Homo sapiens: one gene and its partners. The protein of the gene in region 2 interacts with the protein of the main gene of each other region in a pairwise test. Each region holds a gene or a part of one and is shown on either strand. Other genes may lie near its edges.

Evidence for each region.
Region 1: the proteins of STAT5B (region 2) and INSR interact in a two-hybrid assay, tested with the Homo sapiens proteins (one study listed by IntAct).
Region 3: the proteins of STAT5B (region 2) and ZNF410 interact in binary tests that used the Homo sapiens proteins (3 or more experiments, as listed by UniProt).

The regions. Positions count from the first base shown.
Region 1 is NC_000019.10:7,291,405-7,299,140, forward strand, and holds the start of INSR (insulin receptor isoform Long preproprotein), read right to left. Parts: upstream 3,011-7,736; 5' UTR 2,488-3,010; coding exon 2,388-2,487; intron 1-2,387. UniProt on the Homo sapiens protein: Receptor tyrosine kinase which mediates the pleiotropic actions of insulin.
Region 2 is NC_000017.11:42,273,374-42,281,224, reverse strand, and holds the start of STAT5B (signal transducer and activator of transcription 5B), read left to right. Parts: upstream 1-4,833; 5' UTR 4,834-4,977; intron 4,978-5,591; exon of another isoform or gene 5,592-7,851. UniProt on the Homo sapiens protein: Carries out a dual function: signal transduction and activation of transcription. Mediates cellular responses to the cytokine KITLG/SCF and other growth factors. Binds to the GAS element and activates PRL-induced transcription.
Region 3 is NC_000014.9:73,882,678-73,889,858, reverse strand, and holds the start of ZNF410 (zinc finger protein 410), read right to left. Parts: upstream 3,001-7,181; 5' UTR 2,944-3,000; intron 1-2,943. Other genes in the region: PTGR2 (prostaglandin reductase 2), read right to left, coding at 5,682-5,758. UniProt on the Homo sapiens protein: Transcription factor that binds to the sequence motif 5'-CATCCCATAATA-3', and is specifically required to silence expression of fetal hemoglobin in adult erythroid cells.

The DNA of each region.
Region 1 (7,736 bases), on a different chromosome or scaffold from region 2:
TAGAACAGCACCTGCTGAGAGCTTGCTCTTCTAATTCTTAGGAAGGTATTATGCAGAGAATAAGGAACTCCTTAAGATGATAAAGGAGCCCAGTACACCCAGGAACTCCACCACTTGTGCCCCACTGCAGAACAAATATTTACTGAACACCTACTATGTGCCAGGCATCGTTCTGGGCTCTAGAAATGCAACGGTGAACAACAACAAACCATAAACCCCTGCCCATATGGAAGCCATAAATGTGCAAAGAAATGGTAAATCCATTTACTGACCCTGAAAGCCCAGGCACAGATCCACAATTAATTACCAAAGCTACAAGGAACAGAAGAACAGGGAACCACACACACGCACACATAGAATCTGGCATAGTTCGAAACCACTCATCTTGGATTTTCTTTTTATTTATTTATTTATTTTTGAGACAGAGTCTCGCTCTGTCGCCCAGTGGCACGATCTTGGCTCACTGCAAGCTCCGCCTCCCGGGTTTACGCCATTCTCCTGCCTCAGCCTCCGGAATAGCTGGGACTACAGGCGCCCGCCACCACGCCCGGCTAATTTTTTCTATTTTTCAGTAGAGACAGGGTTTTACCGTGTTAGCCAGGATGGTCGTGATCTCCTGAACTGGTGATCCACCCGCCTCGGCCTCCCAAAGTGCTGGGATTACAAGCGTGAGCCACCACGCCCCGCCTTTTTTTTTATTTTTTTGAGACAAAGTCTCGCTCTTTGGCCAGGCTGGAGTGCAGTGGTGCCATCTGAGCTCACAGCAACCTCCTCCTCCCGGGTTCAAGCAATTGTCCCGCCTCAGCCTCCCAAGTAGCTGGGACTACAGGCGAACGCCACCAAACCCAGGTAATTTTTGTATTTTGAGCAGAGAAGGGAGTTTCACCATGTTGGCCAGGATGGTCTCCATCTCCTGACCTCGTGATCCGCCCGCCTCAGCCTCCCAAAATGCTGAGATTACAGGCTTGAGCCACCGCAGCTGGCCAGATTTTCTTAACAAGAACTCCAACTAACCGCCACCCTTCATTGAGCACCTACTGTCTCCCAGGCACCTGGGGGCGGGGCTGGGGGGGGGTGGGCCCGGGGCTTTTAGACATTATGTGATTGACAGAGTCGACTCAGCAAACCCGGTTGGTCCACTCTAGCACCTGATTTTACATGCACCCGTTTCCCCATCAATACATTTAAGAGCTTCAATTCCTTCCCTCCCTGACCCCTTCCTCATCACGACTGATTTCCTTTTATGGAGAAATCTGAAACAGTAACCCAACAGATATTTTTAAAGCAGGGCCTCAGACCCCACAGTGGGAAACCCAGGCTATATTCCTTAAATGATTGCGCCATCTTCATCTTACAACCCCAAAGGTGCCTATTGTCAAGCCCAAGGAAGATGCTGCCCACACGTGGGAGAGGGGCCCATGGGGTCAGGGGGAACGAAAGGCTCACTCAAGGTCAAAGGCTCCTTCATGAAGCGCAGGGCTGAGGGGAGAGGAGGGGTCAAGGAGACAGCAGACAAGGGACAGTAGTCCAGATTCTTGGGCAGAACGGGACACACAGAGGCTCAAGTCCTGGCTCTGGCACTGACTTTAGGGCAAGGGAGTTATGCGTCCTACATGAGCCTCAGTTTACTCCTCTGTGAAATGGGTGCATAACTGTATCTGCCTCCGGGGGCCACTGTGACAGTCCAGAGAGATAAGATAGACTAGGCTGTGGCGTGCGGTGATACCAATTACAATAAATAGGGTAAAAAACCGCCACTACTTCTGCTACAATTGCTGCTGTTGCTAAGGCTTTAGAATTTGCCTCCGGACATCTGGAAACAGAACCCAAAAGGGTAAACATGGACCTAGAGTCCGGGGTGGCCACGGGCCTAGATCCAAGGTAGTTGGGTAGAGGGGGGCTCTGCAGTCCCTGACCCCAGGCAGCGTCACCCACCGGTGAGGCACTCAGGGCGCTTGGCTCTACCTACACCATATGCGCTCGGGGGACTTGGCTGTTCGGGGCTGTCCAGACCCAGTGACCCCACTTCCCGGCCGCGACCCAAAGATGACGCGTGTCGTGTCTCCGGAGCGACTTGGGCTCGGAGGGGCCGGGGCACGGGTCGGAGGCGCGCTCCAGAGAGGAGCCCGCGGCGGGGCGGGCACCGGGGCAAGGTTCCTCGGGCTCAGGTCGGGCACGCAGGGCGCGGAGGCGCGAGCCCGGGCGGGCAAAGGCCAAGGTCAGAGGCTTCCCGCTCCCCCTACGCGATGCAGGAGCTACCGTCCTGGCCACCGCCCCCCGCCCCTGGGGAGGGTTCTCAGTCCACAAGCGGGGGCTCGATTTTGGCTTGGGTGGGGTCCTCTCCCCATCGCGGCGCTCCCCGCCCACGCCCGCGCCCCCAGACTCACCCTCTCCGGGGTACAGGTGGCCCGCGGCGCCCAGTAGCAGCGCGGCCACCGCCACCAGCAGCGGCGCGGCCGCCGCCCCCCGCCGGCCCCCGGTGGCCATGGCTGCGGGAGCGCGGGGTCTCCTCGGATCAGAGCGCGCGGCGCTGGCCCGCGGGGGTCATGCTCCGAGGCGGCCACCCAAGAGGCGCTGGGGGCCGCGCGTCCTTCTCTTCCACGCCCGCGACCCGCGGGCCGCAGCCCCCCTGCCGGGGAGGGCCCAGAGGCAGCCCCGGGAAGGGCGCGCGCGGCTTCGCCAGCTACAAATACTGAGCGGAGGCCCTTGCGGTGGTGGCCCCGACCCCCCGGCCGCTGCGGCCCGGGCCCCGTCCCAGGATCTCGGGGCCCGGAGCTCCGCGCTGCGCCCGGGACTGTCTCTCGGCTCTCGGCCCCGCGCGCTCTGGGTCGCGATCTGCGGGCTCCGGGACAGAGGGACGCGCGGACCGACGGACTAGCTGACTGGCGGGCGGGCACCTGGGCTGGCGGGTGGCGGGCGGGCGGCGGGAGAGAGGGCTGCTCGGGCCCGTAAACAACGCGGCCCGTCAGCTGGGCCCCGTGCGGGCCGCGGGAAAAGGCGGCGCGGATCTGGCCTAGGAAGGGACTCTGCGCCCGGGAGAGGCCCAGGAGAGGGAGGGAAAGCTTGCAGGGGAGGGAGGTGCCGCCCGGCCCCGCCCCGCCCCGCCCGCCTCCCCGCCTCCCTGTGCCGGGCCCCGCGCGGGAGGCCCTGGGCGCGCCGGGACCGAGGGCGCGCCCCAGATCCGCGCGCCCTACAGCCCCGAGTCTCCTCCAGTTTCAGACCCCCGGAGGCGCCCCACAGGCCCGACGCAGCGGCACAGATCCTTTCTCTACCATTTTGCTATTTTGTTCATAGTGGGCTTTGGAGGATTCCTGTTGATTTTTTAAAAAATACTGCATTAAAATGTTTATTTTGGTGACTCGAGGTGGTTTTGGTTTCTTTCTTTTTTTTTTTTTTTCACTCCCTTAAATTTTGCACCCCAGGCGAGTAGTGTCTCACTCGCCTTTCCTCAGTCCGGGCCTGGCCAGCGACACTCGTCCCAGAGCGCGTGGGCGCCCCCAGATGTCCCGCCCGCGAGTGCGCCCCGGCCCAGGGGCGAGACCCAAGCCAGGCCCCTGGGGACAGCCACGTGCCCGCGTGCCCAGTGCGCTCCCTGTGTTCAAGTTGGAGAAATGACACCTGGAAAAATGTGCAGACGCTTCTGAAAGGGCAAAGACGACGCCAAAGAAGACGCCGGAGACCTCGAATAGGGCGCAGGTGGACATCTCTGATTTTCAGCAGACCAGCCTGTATGTGTCTGAAGTCTAGCAACGACATTCACCAACAAGGCGGGACAGCGGTTCCACCTACCTTACTGCAGGAGAGGAAGGGGCTTTCAGTATAGGAAAGCCAGAACTCAATGGGAGGAGGGTTCCTCCACCCCTCACTCCTGTGTGGTCTTGGACCAGGGACTTTTCTGTCTCTGGGCCAGTTTCACTTGTGTAATGGGTTTAATAATACCTGCATGCCAGTTCTGGGGAGGTACCCGGGAAAGAAAACTTAAGAAAGCGCCCAGCACAACCCTAGACCCAAGGCATTCATTCTTCTTTCATTCAATAAACAGTTTGCTAGGAGCTGGACCCACTGTTCATGCAACAGGCCAAACCTATTCCTGCCTCTGGGCCTTTGCCCCAGCATTTCCCTTGCCCGTAACACTCCAGGATGGCTTCATCTCTGAAGTGCCATCCCTAACCATATTTTTGCAAATCCTCCCCCCAGTTCCGTTTCCTTCTCTCTCTCTCTCTCTCTGTTTTTTTTTTTTTTTTTTTTTTTTTTTTTTTTTTTTTTTTTTTAGATGGAGTTTTTCTCTGTTGCCCAGGCTGGAGTGCAATGGCCAGATCTCAGTTCACTGCAACATCACCTGCCTGGGTTCAAGTGATTCTCCTGCCTCAACCTCCCAAGTAACTTGGATTACAGGCATGCGCCAGCACACCCAGCTAATTTTCTGTATTTTTAGTAGAGACAGGATTTCACCATGTTGGCCTGGCCGGTCTCAAACTCCTGACCTCAGGTGATCCACCGGCCTTGGCCTCCCAAAGTGCTGGGATTACAGGCCTGAGCCACTGCGCCTGGCCCCTTCTCTCTCATTTTCATAGCATGTTTACCCCACTACCTGCAATTGTTTGTTTTTTTTTTTTCTTTTCTTTCTTTTTTTTTCCTTTTGACAGAATCTTGCTGTCACCCAGGCAGGAATGCAGTGGTGCAATCCTAGCTTACTGCAGCCTTGAACTCCTGGCCTCAAGCAATCCTCCTGCCTTGGCCTCCCAAGGTGCTAGGATTACAGGCATGCGCCACCATGATTGGCCTTGAAATTCTTATTCGTTTTCTGTGTCTTCTCCCCTTCCCGTGAAGGCGGAAATCTTTTCGGTCTTGTTTCACTGCTTAAACCCAGTGCCTGACAAATCTGTTGCTTAATAAATATTTGTTGAGTGGGAGAATCAACAAGCAATAAGTAATAGGGGATTTTTCAGTGAGCAAAATAAACATGACCCATTTCCTTATGGAGTTCACAACTGAGCCAGGGAGAGAGCCCTTAAAATAATTGAGTGTGTAATGAGCTGAGGGAAATGGGAGGTGCATAGGGAGGGGTTTGCTGAGGACATGGGGTTTTTTGTTTGTTTGTTTTTTGATGGATCTTACTCTGTTGCCCAGGCTGGAGTGCAGTGGCACGATCTTGGCTCACTGCAACCTCCGCCTCCCAGGTTCAAGCAATTCTCCTGCCTCAGCCTCCAGAGTAGCTGGGATTACAGGTGCATGCCACCACGCCTGCCTAATTTTTGTATTTTTAGTAGAGGCAGGGTTTCACCATATTGGACAGGCTGGTCTTGAACTCCTGACCTCAAGAGATCTGCCTGTCTCGGTCTCCCTAATTGCTGGGATTACAGACGCGTGAGCCACTGCACCTGACTGAGGATGTGATTTTGAGCTTAAGTCTGAAAATGAAGAGGAGCCATCCTAGGGAAGCCATAGGGATGTGTTTCAGGTGGGGGAAGGCATGAGCAAAGGCCCAGAGGAGAGTGGGCAAGGCATTCTTGCAACTGAACCAGGCATTCACTGTAGCTGCAGAAAAGAAAGAGGAGAAAGTGAAGCCATGGGTGAGAACTGCAGTGGGCCCTTGAACATGAGTTTGAACCGTGCACATCTTTTTTTTTTTTTTTTTTGAGGCAGAGTCTCGCTCTGTCACCCTGGCTGGAGTGCAGTGGAGCAATCTCAGCTCACTGCAATCTCCACCTCCAGGGTTCAAGCTATTCTCCTGCCTCAGCTTCCCAAGTATCTGGGACTACAGGCACACGCCACCTCACCCGGTTAATTTTTGTATTTTTAGTACAGACGGGATTTTACCATGTTGGCCAGGCTGGTATCGAACTCCTGACCTCAGCTGATCTGATCAGCCTCCCAAAGTGAGGTCATCTTTAAACAGAATGTTTTTCAATAAATATATTGGAAACATTTTTAGAGATTTGCAATAGTTTGAAAAGACTTGCAGATGAACTTGGTAGCCAAGAAATATTAAAAAAAAATTAGGTATGTCATGAATGCATAAAATATATGTAGATACTAGTCTGTTTTATTATTTTTGTTATTATTTTCTTTTAGAGACAGGGTCTTGCTCTGTTGCCCAGGCTGGAGAGCAGTGGCCCAATCATGGCTCACTGTAACCTCCAACTCCTGGGTTCAAGCGATCTTCCTGGCAAGCACCAACACGCCCGGCTAATTTTTTTACTTTTTATAGAGACGAGGTCTCACCATGTTGCCCAGGCTGGTCTCTAACTCCTGAACTCAAGTGATCCTCCTGCCTCTACCTCCCACAGTGCCGAGATTACAGGTATAAGCCACCATGTCCAGCCCTATTTTATAATTTGCTAACATAAAATATACACAAATCTGTTACAAAAAGTTAAAATGTATTAAAACGTACACACACACTTACAAACCATACATGGTGTTATTCCAAGTCAAGAGAAATGTAAATAAATGTAAAGATGCAGCATTCAATCATAACTGCATAAAATTAACTATAGAATATATTGTGTTATTGTAACAATTTCATAGCCACCTCCTGTTGCTACTGGAGTGAGTGCAAGTGTTGCAAGTATCCGCTTTAAATGCCATGTTACATTAATTATCTCCCTGTGGGCAGTTCACCTCTCCAGGAATTTGTGCCCCGGTAAAAAGGGATCTCTTGGCGGTTCCCGCGTATTTTTCACTGTGTTTAGTGCAATACCGCAAACATTGAATAACATCCTGAGACCCATGTAAAGTGCCACTAGTGATGCTGGAAATGCTCCCGAGAAGCAGAGAAAAGTCAGGACAGGACAAGAAAAAGTTGAATTGCTTGCTACGTAACATAAATGGAGCTCTACAGCTGCGGTTGTCTGCTTCAGACAGACAATTCATCTTGTAAACAAATTTATGGCATTGATAAATATTGTAGCGTTCTGTAACTGTAAATGTATTTTCTCTTCCTTGTGATTTTCTTTTTCTTTTTCTTTTTTTCTTCTTTTTGGAGACAGGGTTTCACTCTGCTGCCCAGACTGGAGTGCAGTGGCACCATCAGGGCTCACTGCAGCCTCTACCTCCTGATCTCGGGTGATCCTCCTGCCTCAGCCTCCCAGGGAGCTGGGATTACAGCCACATGACACCATGCCCAGCTGTGATTTTTTAAATAACATTTTCTCTTCTCTAACTTGCTTTATTCTAAGACTGTAGTGTGTAGAGGCTGGGCACAGTGGTTCACTCCTGTAATCCCAGCACTTTGCAAGACAGAGGGAGGCGGATCACTTGAGGTCAGGAGTTCGAGACCAGCCTGGCCAACATTACAAAACCCCATATTTACTAAAAATACAAAAATTAGCCAGGCGTGGTGTGCTTGTAATTCCAGCTACTCTGGAGGGCTGAGGCATGAGAATTACTTGAACCTAACAGGCGGAGGTTGCAGTGAGCCAAGATCATGCCACTAGCGCACTCCAGCCTAGGTGATGCAGTAAGACTCTATCTCAAAATAATAATAATAATAAAGTAAGAAAGAAAGAAATACAGTATGTAATACTTGTAACATACAAAATGCCTGTTAATCGGCTGTTTATGTTATTGCTAAGTCTTCAGGTCAACAGCAGGCTATAAGTAGTTAAGTTTTCAGGGAGTCAAAAGTTATATTCAGATTTTCAACTCTGTAGGGGTGAATTGGCACCAGTAGCCACAACACTATTGAAAGGTCAACTATAAAAAGTGCAGAACCTAGAATATGCCATGTTAAG
Region 2 (7,851 bases):
ATGGGAAACTGAGATCCTCAGAGACATTAAGTACCTAGACCAAAGTCACACAGCTAGTTTTTTTTTGTTTTTGTTTTTGTTTTTTTTTTTTGAGACGGAATCTCGCTCTGTCGCCCAGGCTGGAGTGCAGTGGCGCGATCTCTGCTCACTGCAACCTCAGCCTCCCGGGTTCACGCCATTCTCCTGGCTCAGCCTCCGGAGTAGCTGGGACTACAGGCGCCCGCCACCACGCCCGGCTAATTTTTGGTATTTTTAGTAGAGTCAGGGTTTCACCGTGTTAGCCAGGATGGTCTCGATCGCCTGACCTCCTGACCCACCCGCCTCGGCCTCCCAAAGTGCTGGGATTACAGGTGTGAGCCACCGCGCCCGGCCAACAGCTAGTAAGTTAGCAGAGCTGGGATTTAGAACCATATCTAACTTTTCACCACCAATGCTCTGGCAGAAGTAAGCAGGGGCACTGACAGAGCCCTCCGAAACTGCAGAGCCCATTCCAAACCGAGGCCACGCCATTCTGAGGCCTTGGAGATCTGGCATCCCCGCCTTCTTTTCTGTTGAGCATCCTATACCTTCTCCACATGGCTCCAGGGTCCTGTACTGACCTATCCCCCTATGGAAGGATTCATCCCCACAGGGAAAAAGGGACATTCCCACAGTGCCCTTTCTTAGCAAATGTGTGGCCGGTGGTTGCCCAGGGTCAGCCTGACTCCTGGGATGCAGGAGGGAAGCCATAATAACGAAGGCCTCTGGTTTCTGGCCAGAGGGGATCATGGTTGTGGCTTCAGTGACGTTCCCAGAAAATGGCCTCATGATCTCTGGGGCAGGAGTGAGGGAGGATGTGAAGCAGGGAAGCTGCCCCCTCTGAAAGCCATGTGTTCATCTATGAGAGAGAGAGGGGAGGAGGCTGTAGGATGGGAGCAGGGGCATGCATGGACAAGGGCTGTGGACTAGACCCCCAGGCTCTTCCCCCAAGCCTCTCTCCTGGGTCAGGCTGGTGCACTAAGGGATGAGACCCTCCAGTGGACATTGCTGCATCTCCAGGTACCTTCTTGGGTCATTCCTGATGGGTTGGACTGTGGGGTCTTTCAGGATCCTAGCTTCCTGTTCAGTTTCTTTCTTTCTGTCATGTCTTAAGTCTGGTGTCCCCTCAATTTAAGGGAATATGTCCCCGAGGCCTAGAAGAAGAGGGTCCCACCCCATCAGAACTGTCAAGCAGAGAAGCAGGTGTCAGGCCTTCCCATCCCAGGATGACAACATTCTGTTTTGCTGAGGTAGTGACCCAGAACATTCTGTCCTCAGCATCTGTGCACACACCCAGCCAGGTCTAGCTTGGTGCCTGGTGACCATCAGTCAGAGATGTGCCTAGAGCTGCAAGAATCAAGAGGCATTCCCACCCACCCTTCAGGACATTTTTTTTTTTTTTTCTGAGATGGAGTTTTGCTCTTGCTGCCCAGGCTGGAGTGCAATGGTGTGATTTTGGCTCACCGCAACCTCCGCCTCCCAGTTTCAAGTGATTCTCCTGCCTCAGCCTCCCAAGTAGCTGGGATTACAGGCATGTAATCCTGTAATGGCACCACCATGCCCAGCTAATTTTGTATTTTTAGTAAAGACGAGGTTTCTCCACGTTGGTTAGGCTGGTCTCGAACTCCCGATCTCGGGTGATCCACCCGCCTCGGCCTCCTAAAGTGCTGGGATTACAGGCGTGAGCCACTGCGCCCGGCCCCCTTCAGGACATTTAAACTAGCGCCCTGTGGCTGCCACAAACCAGCTGGCTTGAGTCCTAGACCGCCGGTCTTGGGAAGAGGAGTATTCATCTTAGCTGCTACTAAACACCACAGTAGTAGTTAACCGCTATACAGTGCTTTACAGTGAAGCACTTTACATGTAGTAAACACTTATTTCCCGCAACCCGATGAGGTAGGTACTGTCTCTATCACCACATTACAAACGAGAAGATAGAGGAAAACACACTCAAGATTACCCAGCTCAAGGAATTGACAGAGTCTGGTTTGAGAACCTGTACTTTTTTTTTTTTTTCTTTTTTTGAGACAGGTCTCACTCTGTCGCCCAGGCTGGAGAGCAGTGGCACAATCATGGCTCACTACAGCTTCAGGCTGGGCACAGTGGCTCACAAATGTAATTCCAGCACTTTGGGAGGCTGAGGAGGGAGGGTTGCTTGAGCCATAAGTTCTTGAACAGCCCAGGCAATATAATGAGACCCTGTCTTTACAAATATTTTTTTTTTTTTGAGATGGAGTCTCACTCTGTCGCCCCAGGCTGGAGTGCAGTTTCGTGATCTCGGCTCACTGCAACCTCTGCCTCTCGGGTTCAAGCAATTCTCCTGCCTCAGCCTCCCCAGTAGCTGGGACTACAGGCGCGCACCACCACGTCCAGCTAATTTTTGTATTTTTAGTAGAGACAGGGTTTCAACATATTGGCCAGGCTGGTCTGGAACACCTGACCTCGTGATCCACCGACCTTGGCTTCCCAAAGTGCTGGGACTACAGGCGTGAGCCACCGTGCCCGGCCTACAAATAATTTTAAAAAATTAATCTGGGAGTAGTGGTGCACGTCTGTGGTCCCAGTTACTCATAAGGCTGAGGCAGGAGGATTGCTTGAGCCCAGGAGGTTGCCTTGAGCTGTGATTGTGCCACCACACCATGAGACCTTTTTCTGTGAGACTGTCTCCAAAAAATAAAAATAAAAAAAAATCATCACACCCTTGACCTCCCAGGCTCAAGTGATCCTCCCACCTTAGCCTCCTCAGTAGCTGGGACCACAGGTGTGTGTCGCCACACCGGGCTAGACCCTGTCCTCTTAATGACTGCATAGTCCTTGTAACCTCCATTTGCATTCCTAGAGCATAGCATTTGTTCCAAAAATATTTATTGAGTGTCTGTTCTGGGCTTGAACACGAGTAGGAGGATTTAAAAGTGAATAGCATATTGCGTCTGCCCTTGGGGACAGAGACAGAAACATGAAAACATGAAATTGTCCTTCAACACAAGAAGTGCTGTAATAGAGGCATGAATAACGCGGTGGGAAACAAGGAGGGAGGTCATGCTGCCTGAAGCAAATGTCACCGAAGGGCAGACATCAAGAAGGCAGGACATTCCAGGCAGAGGGAATAGCATGTGTGCAGGGATGAAAGCTCACAAGAAAGAGAAACATGAGTCAGGTGCGGTGGCTGATGCCTGTAATCCCAGCACTTTGGGAGGCTGAGGCGGGCAGATTACGAGGTCAGGAGTTCGAGACCAGCCTGGCCAACATGGTGAAACCCCGTCTCTACTACAAAAATACAAAAATTAGCCGGATGTGGTGGTGTGCGCCTGTAATCCCAGCTACTCAGGAGGCTGAGGAAGGAGAATCACTTGAACCCAGGAGGTGGAGGTTGCCGTGAGCTGAGACCGCACCATTTCACTCCAGCCTGGGCAACAGAGAGAGACTCCGTCTCAAAAAAAAAAAAAAAGAAAAGAAAAAGAAAAGATAAAAGAGAAATATGGAGAACATGGAGCACCTGAGTGTCAAAACATCATGGGCAGTAACTGTCAGGGAGATTGCCAGAGAGCTCGGGGTTGGTTGGCGCATCCATCCTGCTTCCTGCTTCCTTCTCTGGCCTCCAAGCTCCCTGAACCTACTCTGTGCAAAGCACTGTGCCAGGTGTTGGCCCAGAGTATGGGACTGCAGCAGTGGCCTGGGTAGCGGAGAAGGGTTTTTTGACCAGCTGGAGACCTTTGTGGCTGGTGTCATTCTGGAGGTGAAGAGAAGGCCGCTGGAAAGAGCTGCCCAGGGAGGACTATGGGAGAACTTGCAGCTCTGGGCCATCTCTGGACATGAACGTTTTGCATACACACAGGGGAGCTCTGTGTGTCTGAGTGGGGGCGGGAGGGGTCCTTCTCTCTCTTTTGGCCCCTGCAGCTTGGCTTCTGGAGCTTTCCTATGTCTTGCTTTAGTGCTAGCCCTTGGAGGGTTGCCAGGGAAACCGCTGGCCAGCTCCGGGAGATAGACGTAGCAGAGGAAAGGAGAGTGGGTGACTCAGCCTGGCTTCCCACAACCGCAACCCCCTCCTCAGCACGTGGAAAGGATCTGGGGGACCCCCTTCCCCTGGATCCTACAGATGACCCTGTTTATTCTTTCTTCTCTAGAGAGAGCAGTCCCTCCCGCAGCTCTGACTGGTGGGAGCCAGCCAGATTTTCCCAGGAAGGGAACCGGCCCCAGGCGCCCCGTCCCCCGTAGGTTCACCCTGGAACTCGGACAGGTGAATTCGGCCTGGGCGAATGTGAATTCCTGCCGTGCCCATGCAGGCGGCAGGAGCCCTGGCTGAGACGCCCTCCCGGGGGCAAACCCAGGATAATTATTGATCGGGGCCCCTGTGGACTTCTGACCTCGGCCTCGGCGGGAGAGGACCCGGAACGCGGGCCTGGGCTCCCAGGGAGAGAGGTGGGCGGGCCGCGGAGGGGGCCAACCAAAACGACCACGACAGTGCGCCCTAGCCCTGCTAGTGGTGGTCGACCCAACCCAAACAAAGCAGCATGTGCTTGCGGTGCGGCGTCGGCTAGGGAGCCGAGCCGGGAAGACACCCCACCGCCGCAGAAAGGGGGTGCGCGCGGCGCCGGCACCGGCACCGCCGAGCGCGCCGCCACCTCGGGTGTGCCGAGGGGGTCCGGGTCCTTCAAGGGCGGTCGCGGAGGGGGCGCGAGGGACAGCGGGCTAGCGAGCGCGCGCCGGGCGGAACCAGGAAGCGGGGCGCGCTCCGGGTTGCCAGCGGCGCGCGTCCCTGGGCCTCCGCGCGTGAGCGGCGCGCGCGCCCCCGCGGGCCCCGGCGGGAGGAGAGTCGGCGGCCGGAGCCGTCACCCCGGGCGGGGACCCAGCGCAGGCAACTCCGCGCGGCGGCCCGGCCGAGGGAGGGAGCGAGCGGGCGGGCGGGCAAGCCAGACAGCTGGGCCGGAGCAGCCGCGGGCGCCCGAGGGGCCGAGCGAGGTAGGAGCTGCGGGGCGAGCCCTGGGCCCGGGGCCGGGGGAGCCAGGCCGGGGAGCCAGCCCGGGCGGGGCCCGCGCTCCAGCCGCTCAGCCGCCCGTCAGGGCCGCGCCGCCGCCATCACTCCCGGGCCGCGGTGGTTGCGCGCTGGGCGAGGGGCGCGCGCGGGGAGAGGGGGTCCGGGTTGGCTGCCGGGGAGGCTGAGGGCAATGCGGGGTGCGCGAGGGGGACTTGCGAACGCCGCGGCGCCGCGGGGGGCGTGCGCTTTAAAGGCTGCGTGCGCGTGTGCTGAGTGGGTGTGTGGGGACCCCGCGCCGACCCCATAGGAGCTCAGGGGGCTGCTGTCAGCCGCCTCACACCTTCACGTTGCAATTCCGAATATCCCCAGCCGTCTTCCTTGCTTTAACTTCTTTCTTTCAAAAGAGGTTCCCGGGACTCCGGGGATGGGATGAGCCTGCGGGGGTGCCTGGTGCGGTGGGGGGTATTAGCAAAGCTTCAAGAAACAGGGCCTTATAAGGAATCAAGACAACAAATACGAACGTTTCGATAAGACTCTGGGGGGCGGGATCCCACATCAGGACCCGCCAGGCCTGGGCTCGTGCGTGTGGCCGTGGGATGCAGTGTGCTTTTTCTTTCTAGTCAGGGATAAAGGGTTAAAAGTGCTCCTGGTGTCGGGGGGTAGATATGGAGAGTCGGAAGGGGAGTTGTATCACAAAAGCTGGTCTGAGGCTAAAGGAATCTGGCAAGATGGTCGGGGTGAACAAAGAGGAAAGAACTCACACGGAGCAAGAGGCGGTTGCAAACACTTGTAGCCAGCAGTGATGGAAAAGCCAAAGAAGAAAACCAAGTGTCAGCTTTTAGAAAGACGGGATTAATGAAAAGCACAAGAATTTTAAAGACTAAAAGAGATACCGATTCTCTCTTTGCCAAAGAGCCAGAGTCAGTTCTTTTCTTCTTGGTCCCTGTGATCCCGCCATACCTCGTATCAAATAAATAGTGCCAAAAGTGGGTCAAAGAATGTTAGAGCTGGAAAGGAACCCAGCGATGATGCCATTCTTTTATTGTACAAATGAGGAAACTGAGGCCCAGATAGGTGGAGTAAGTGGCCTGCTCAGGTGACACGGCTGTTTGTTGAGTATCCAGGGATTGAAACTTCAAGGACTCTGAGATTCGTGCTCTTCCCAAAGCATCGTGCAGTATACAGATCTTTGCCTAGATACAATTCCATACATTTTCTCTGCAGTGTCCTCAGGGAATGCCCTTTGAAAGGGCCAGCGTGACACTGAATATCATACTTGGGCTTATGTCATTTTTTTCAGTCTTCAAGTGGTGTTTATGGTCTGCTTGGATCTTAGGTTTCCAAAGCTGTTGGATAGCCGCCTGGGCCATAATAAGCTTTCAGCTGTTGGGTCTACATTATTTCAAATAATTTTGTTATCTTTCAATTAAGGTAATAGAACTGTGCCTCTCTCCCCAACATTCTATTGTTGTCCATTTGCTTATGTTATATTGCGTTATGTTCATTGCCTGTGAGTTCCTAGGTGAGGATGTATTTTATTGAGTGTGCCTTTCATGTTTTAAAATTTCATTTTGTAACACTGTAAATATTGGAGTGGTTCTGATCACTTCAAATGGGGAGAATCTTATTGATTGATTTTATTTTAAGGCTTTGGGTTGTTTTGTTTATTCATTTGGGTACCAGTTTCCATCTCATGGAAGATCACAGTTGTTAGAATGGACATGGCTAAATAAGAGAAGGGGCTGCTGATTTTAAGAAAAACTTCCTATGTGACAATTTGTGGTATCTGTTACGTTTAATTCAAACAAGTCCACACCTTGGGTCAGGTAAGCGCGTTATCTAGGAGATGACTTGTTTGCTACTGTAGCCTCTGGAAGATGAAATTTCAAGCTCCAGATTGAGACACAGGGAAGGAATGGAGAGGTTTTTTTTTTTTTTTTTTTTTTTTTTGTAAAGCAAACCATCAGAAAAAAAAAGTTGATTTCTATCACCAGTAGTTTGGTTATTGCATAACTTGAAGCTAAACTCTGCACAAAATAATCTTTGCTATATACCCAACTAGGTAAACTATCCCACCTTCTCATCAGTTCTCACCTTTTCGGTGCTTGTATTTTTTGCCCACGGGATATTAATATGGATTGTGTTCAGAAATTTAAGGTGTGTACTTCATAGTATGTATGATTGTAGGAGAAAAATGTGCTATCATCGTTTGGAGTGTTACAACATAAATATTTTGGTCAACACTTCCTATCCTGCTCTGACTTTTCATCTCATCTCCATTTTCTTCCTCTCTTGATTGTTTTTATGTCATTTACATATGTAAAAGCCACATCAAGACTAAAGTTGCCATTTATTACTTTTTGATACTTAAGTCGAGTTTTTTCAAATCATAGTATTGTTAGTATTCAAATTGTCTGTAATTTTTGTTAGGCTTATATATTATGAATCCATTTGTTGTGGTTTATTTGGCTTGTTGTTATGTAGGTAGGTGACACAGGTAGTCTTATTGTAAAAGGAAGACGTTATAGATAGGTAAATAACATGCTCAAGATTAGATGCAGGTTACAGGTGGAATCGAAGGAAGCCTAACTATTTTCGTGCCCTACAAAAATGTCTGTATCTCATAAAGTTATTCACAGATTTCTGGACATTCTATCTGTGACACATTTTTTCCCTTTCTGTTAAGAGTGCAGATTACTGCATTATTCCTACAAAAGGAAGCAAAATAACCCTAGTTTGTATGATTTTTCTGATAATTTGAAACTTATTCGTTTAAAAAGCTATCTGGCAATTCCAGGTTACTGGACTCTTGAGAAGAATATCCTTTTATTTTGATACTATAAAATATCAAAGTATCA
Region 3 (7,181 bases), on a different chromosome or scaffold from region 2:
CTCCACTGTACTCCAGCCCGGGCGACAGAGCAAGACTCTGTGTCGAGAAAAAAAAAAAAAAAACTAACCATTTACAAGATATAAATGGAAATGCTCCTTCCAAGTTTCCCACATAAAGTATCATAAATCCCTGACTTTTCTTCCACACATATTTTTCTTATTCAAGCACTGCAACAGTTTCATATGGTTTATCCATCCCTCTATTTAGAGAGGAAGGAACCAAGGCTCAGTATATTACTTAATTACCAAGTTATTAAGTTGCAAAGCCAGGACTCCCACCCACACCAGAAGTATGCAGAAATCATTGGCGTGAATAGTGATTACATCTCTCTAGGTTTGACCCTGAATCTCCATGGCCTAAGAATTCCTTTTCTCAGCCTAGGCAACACAGTGAGACCCTATTTCTTTTTTTTTTTTTTTTTTTTTTGAGACTGAGTCTCGCTCTGTCACGCAGGCTGGAGTGCAGTGGCGCGATCTCAGCCAGTGAGACTCTATTTCTACAAAAAAAAATTTTTCAATTAGCATCACATGGTGGCACATGCCTGTGGTCCTAGCTACTAGGGAGGCTGAGTAGGAGGATTGCTTTAGCCCAGGAGATCGAGGCTGCACTGAACAGTGATCACGCCACTGCACTCCAGCCTGGGTAACAAATGGAGGCTGTCTCAAAAAAAACAAGAATTCCTCTTCCCCAATTCCAGCTTGTCTTAACAAGCCAAGAAATTATCAGATGTTTGTTGTTTAAGTCATCCTTAAGGTTCCTCCAACTTTGAGATTCCAGGATTGTAAAATCTCTGAGGAACCAGACAACTATTTACTGTCCTTTTTATGTTATCTATGACATCTTTTTATTTCAGTGTTTTCACTTCAATAATCTTTAAAAATTAACACGAGCATTTTCTCAAGCACTGGGTATTCATATTATAACTAAGTACTACCATACAATTTTTGTGTCCAAGTTTATGATTTGTATGTGTACGGTATGAATAAAATAAAAAATAGCAGGATGCATTAAGATATGCAACTGAACTCAAAAGAATTTGTACTAGAGCACTCAGTATCTTATCAAGTGTACTGTGGGGATCTCATCTTTAACAGAGCAACGTACTATGTACATTAGCTATAGGTGTAACGGCAAATACACAATTAAACATTCCTATTCCCAATTCCTTACTCAACAGATTTCCAAAACTGCAATGTAAATCTTTTTTAAAAATTAGTTTCACTAAGATATCGTTCACATACCATACTATTGACTCATTTAAAGAGTACAATTAAAATATCTTTAGTTCATTCAGAGTTGTACAAGCAGAACCACGATCAATTTTACAATATTTCATCACCTCACAAGGAAACCCTGTGCCCATTAACGGTCACTTCCCACTTCTAATGTGTTTACTATGAGCTTAAAGGGCTTCCATACAAGCTTCCCAGTAAGCAACTGGTAGGTACTAAATATTTGTATAATGAATGAATGACACTACAAATGATACCTACATTTTTCTCTAGTCATCTCTTCTGAACTCCAAACCTTCATTTCTAACTGCTTGCTAGGTATCTCCACATGTATATCCAACAGCATCTCAAACCTAACAATGTCCAAAATCCAGATTATTATCTTCCTTACCAAACCTGTTCTTCTTGTATTACCTATTTCAATGATCGCCCAATCTTCCTCCCACTCAGCTGCAAATTCTAGGTCTTTAAATCTCTCTCATTCTCCATTTTTAAATAATTCCCGTGATTCTCTGTTCCCAGAATGTTCTCTGTTCCCTACTGTAATGCCCTGTTTAGGTCTCTCAGTAACTTTCTACTATACTATTAAAACAGGCCTCTAACTGGTCACCCCGCGTTTAAAATTCCTCTTTCCAATACATCCTTTATGCAGCCATTCAAGTTATCTTTCCAAAACAAAGAAATGCTTATGTCACTTCTACTCAAAGTTCAGTGCCTCGGAAAAATTGTCATAGCCCTAAAGGTAAACCCCTTCGTTTACAGAAAAACTCCCCAGAGCTAGAGATTCAGCAACTTGCCAAAAATTAGACATCTACTTAGATGCAAAACGTAAAAAACTAGAACTTAAAACTTCTGACTGCTACTTTAGTTGTCTTTTACTCTGCACCACACTAAGAAAAAACCAAGTGCAATTTCTCACTCCCTAACAAAATGCCCGACTTTATTTCCAAATGTTTTTTATTTATTGCAAATATGCTGCGTTGACCTTCGTTCCAACCTAAGTACTAATTCTTAAGTCCCAAGTTAATAATATTTAACTTCCAAATGGTGCCTAAATGCATTTCTGAGCCTCATGATCAAGTGGGATAAACTTTAATAAATTGGATTATCTTGAGAAACTTCAGAAAATAAATTCGACACGAAATGTATGAAGGCCGTAAACAATCCACACACTCCTGCCCCCCGAACTGACAGGCAAAGGAGAAACGGGCGACCCAGCCCAGCCGAGTAGGCAGCTGTCCCTTTTCCAAACCCAGAAAGTAAGTGGTATGAAAGGAGAGGGTAGCTCTGGACTGAAACATTCAGGGCAAGGCCTCCTGGCATCCTCTACCCCACACCACAAAGGCCTCAGAAATAAGGCCCCAAGGTCCGTAGGCAGGCCCCGGCTGCGGGTGCAGTCCAAGAGCCCCCGCCCCGGGGACTCGCTGACTCTGGCTTTCTCAGGACAGTCTGTTCCTATATCCCTACCCCCAAAACCAAGCAAAGGAGCAAGAACATCGCCCCTAAAAACCCGCGAGGGGAAGGGCCAAAGCCGCAGGGCTTCAGACTGGCCGCTCCCGGGCCCGCCAGATCCAGGAGGGATGCCCAAGGAGGGCGGTTTCCTCTCTCGGGGCGAACTCGGCCCCAGGCCCCAAGTAGCCGGTACTGGCCCCCGCCCTCTCGGGTACTACCTAACCGAGGAGGGGTGGCCAGGCCCACCTCGGAGCTCACCTTCCAGTTCCGGGAAGCCGGCCGGCCGTCAGTCGGTCCCGAATTCCGTCCACACACAGCGTCTTCCGGCTCCCGCCGGAAGCAGCTCGAGCGCGGGACAGGAAGTTTGGCTGACCCCCCACGCACACACCCACTCGCTCGCCTCAGTGTCGTGTGGCTGCCGCACTGCTCGGGACCCAGACGTCAAGGGTGCTGGCGGGGCCTCCCCAGGCCCGCGACGCAGGGCTCCGCCCCGGACAGGAGGAGCCGCAGCCGCCCCGCTCCCACTCACTCACTCACTCTCGGCCTTCGGGACTCCTATGTCCGCGAAGCCCGAAAAAACAGGTCAGCTAATTCGTTGACGTCACTGCCACCCCGCAGTAGCGGAGGGAGTAGTTTTTCCCATCAGCGGAGGCGTTGCAATGGAGGCAAACGCGAAAGAAAAGATCACTGCTTAAACATTTATCAAAGGTCTCCATGGAGAGGACCTTCGAAGTTTCACCGCCCGAGAAAGGAACTTGCAGAATCAAGTTTTGCATTATATACGGGACGGGGTATGCAGTGAGTCTGGGTTCCGTGTTGTAATTAGGATGTAAAGAGCTCTTGGATGTCCCGACTGCGGGCTTGAACACTTGACTTCCAAGCTGGATGCCACCTTGTTAAAGCTTTGTGAGTTTGACTGACTTCTTGAAATTACTTATTTTAAAATATTTGCGTGCGGAAGAATGAGAGACTCAACCGTGGGAATTAAAGGAGTTCTCTTTAAAAAGGCATTTTCAAGGTTAAAGATAAGCCTTGATGACAGGTTTGGGTACACAAATTACTAATGGTGATTTAAAATAAAGGAGAAACATTTCAGAGGAAGATAATTCCACTTTAGAAAAGCAGAGTAGGCCGGACTCCGTGGCTCACGCCTTTAATCCCAGCACTTTGGGAGGCTAAGGTGGGCGGATCACGAGGTCAGGAGATCGAGACCATCCTGGGTAACGCCGTGAAAACCCGTCTCTACTAAAAACACAAAAATTAGCCGGGCGTGGTGGCACGCGCCTGTAATCCTAGCTACTCGGGAGGCTGAGGCAGGAGAATCGCTTGAACCCGGGAGGCGGAGGTTGCAGTGAGCCGAGATCGTGCCGCTGCACGCCGGGCGACTGAGCAAGACTCCATCTCAAAAAAGAAAAGAAAAGAAAAAAGCAGAGTATAAGATGCAATCCAGAGTTGAGGATATTTACTTGGAGGTAAAGGTCCAGTGCTCAAGAAAGAGGTCAGAAATACAGATGGAGATTTGGGAGTTAGCAACATACAGAGAAAAGTGAAACCCCCTCAGGCGATGAAATGGTCCAGGAAAAGTAACAAAAAAGGGCCACTCACGAAAACTGGGGAGGCTGATTACCAACACAGTTTGAATCTACTTATTACAAATGTTGCATACAAAAGTATATTGGCAGTGTGTAGACAATCATAAGCCAAAACATTCAGAAACAATAATCTTCAGTTTTACTGTTCTGCGAGGGTTGAGTACAATTAATAAAACAAACTTTTGAGGTACATCAGTAGTTCCTGAACATTCATGTTTACAAACATTTGTTAATTTGCCCAGTCCTGTCATTTTCTGAAACTGTCTTTGTTGTCAATCTGTTTTTGTTTTTTGAGATGGAATTTCACTCTTGTCGCCCAGGCTGGAGTGCAATGGTGCAAGCTCAGCTCACGGCAACCTCCCCCTCCCAGGTTCAAATGATTCTCCAGCCTCAGCCTCCTGAGTAGCTGGGATTACAGGCGTGTGCCACCACGCCCAGCTAATTTTTGTATTTTTAGAGAGATGGGGTTTCACCGTGTTGGCCAGGCTGGTCTTGAACTCCTGACCTCAAGTGATCTGCCCGCCTCTGCCTCCCAAAGTGCTAGGATTACAGGCTTGAGACATCAGGCCCGGCTGTCAATCTTTTTAATCACCTACAAGTGATGTTTACATCTGTTTGCCCTCTCAATCTTTACAACTTGACAGTATGTGCCTGCTAACCTAAAATAAACATATGCTTTTCTCAATATATATGGAGTTTTTAGGCTATACAGTAAATTATTTGGCAAATACAAAGAGATGATCCTCTGGAGTAAATCTTGTCAACTTAACCAACCTAAGTTATTTATCTTCCCATACTAATCCCAACCCAAAACCGCTGGTCTCCTATCCCAAAAACTGTTACACAAGCTCCGAAACCCCCAATCCTGCCCCCAGTCCCTATGTACACATCATACCATTAAGTCTCTTTTCAGTCTACAATGTGAAAAAAAGGCCATCTCAATTCTATTTTTACACCAAGTTTCAGTTTAAGAATCATGTAAAACATTTCCAGTTCAACAAATCTTTACTCAGTGCCTCTCAAGCATTCTATTTTATTTTAAGCATTCTATTTTAAATTAATAAAAGTTATTAATATTAATTTTAAAAAACCTATTGTGTATGATTCATTAATGGTTGTATCAGATCATGTAAAACGTTTCCAGTTTAACAAATCTTTACAAAGTGCCTCTCAAGCGTTCTATTTTAAATTAATAAAAGTAATTACTAAAAGTTATTAATTTTTAAAAACCTATTGTGTATGATCCATTAATGATTGTATCAAATACCCTATGCAACTAAAAATAACACCTATGATCACATTTAAATCAAGAGCTATGTATAGTCTAAGGATTTTTTAACATATCTTTGAAAATATGCAAAATGGAAAAGAAATCTATGATTGCCTTGATGACATTTACAGCAATTACAAAGAGATTTCTTCTGAAATGCAAACTATCTGCTTTCCAATGTTACCTCCTGTCATCATGGACTGGAATGCAGCTGGAAAAAGAGAAAGTAGGTTATCTGAAAAGATAAATGTCACTATCATACTTGTTTCCAAAAGGTACAACATATAAAATTATGTTAAATAACTTTTTCAATGATTTTGAATATTAAGCATAGAAGAAAATGGTCATGAAAAGAAATCTCAAGTAAAAAGTTACACACAAACTAACCCAATTAACATCTTAAAAAAATGTTTTGCCCATACTGGAAAGATTTAATTGGTATCTAACTGGTATGCACATCAATGTTCATTGTTTACAGTATCTGAAGACTAGAGGCAAAAAAAAATGGGAATAAAATGTGAGTGAAGGCCGGGCATGGGGCCTCACGACTGTAATCCCAGCACTTTGGGAGGCCAAGGTGGGTGGATCACTTGAAGTCAGGAGTTTAAGACCAGCCTGACCAACATGGTGAAACCCCATCTCTACTAAAAATACAAAAATCAGCTGGGAGTGGTGGTGTGTGCCTGTAGTCCCAGCTACTCGGGGGGCTAAGGTGGGAGCATCACCTGAACCTGGGAGGTAGAGGCTGCAGTGAGCCATGATCGCACCACTGCACTCCAGCCCGGGTGACAGAGCATGGCCCTGTCTCAAAAATTAAAAAAAGGGCTAGGCACTCACACCTGTAAATTCCAGCACTTTGGGAGGCTGAGGCAGAAGGATCATTTGAGGCCAGGAGTTGCCTGGACAATATAGTGAGACCCTGTTTCTATGGAAAATTAAAAAAAAAAAAAAGGTTGGGCATAGTGGCAGGTAATTGTAGTACCAGCTACTCTGGTGAGAGGATTGCTTGAGCCCATGGGTTCATAAGTTACAGTTAGCTATGATCATGCCACTGCACTCCAGCCTGGGCAACAGAGCAAGATCATCTCTTTAAAAAAAAAAAAAAAAAAAAAAAAAAAAAAAAGGGAGGTGAGGGGAGGGAAGGGCAGGGAAGGGGAGGCCAGAGAGGTAGCATTAAAAGATAAAAGACTTTGGCCTGTGCGGTGGCTCACGCCTGTAATCCCAGCACTTTGAGAGGCCGAGGCAGGCAAATCACTTGAATTCAGGAGTTCAAGACCAGCCTGGCCAATATGTTGAAACCCTGTCTCTACTAAAAATACAAAAATTAGCCAGGCATACCAGTGCACGCCTGTAGTCCCAGCTACTTGGTAGACTGAGGCAGGAGAATTGCTTGATCTCGGGAGGTGGAGGTTGCAGTGAGCCAAGATCATACCACTGCACTCCAGCCTGGGAGACAGAGCAAGACTCCGTCTCAAAAAAAAAAAAAAAAAAAAAAAAAAAAAAAAAAAAAAGGGCCAGGCGTGGTGGCTCACGCTTGTAATCCCAGCACTTTGGGAGGCCAAGGCAGGCAGATCACGAGGTCAGGAGATCGATACCATCCTGGCTAAGACAGTGAAACCCCGTCTCTACTAAAA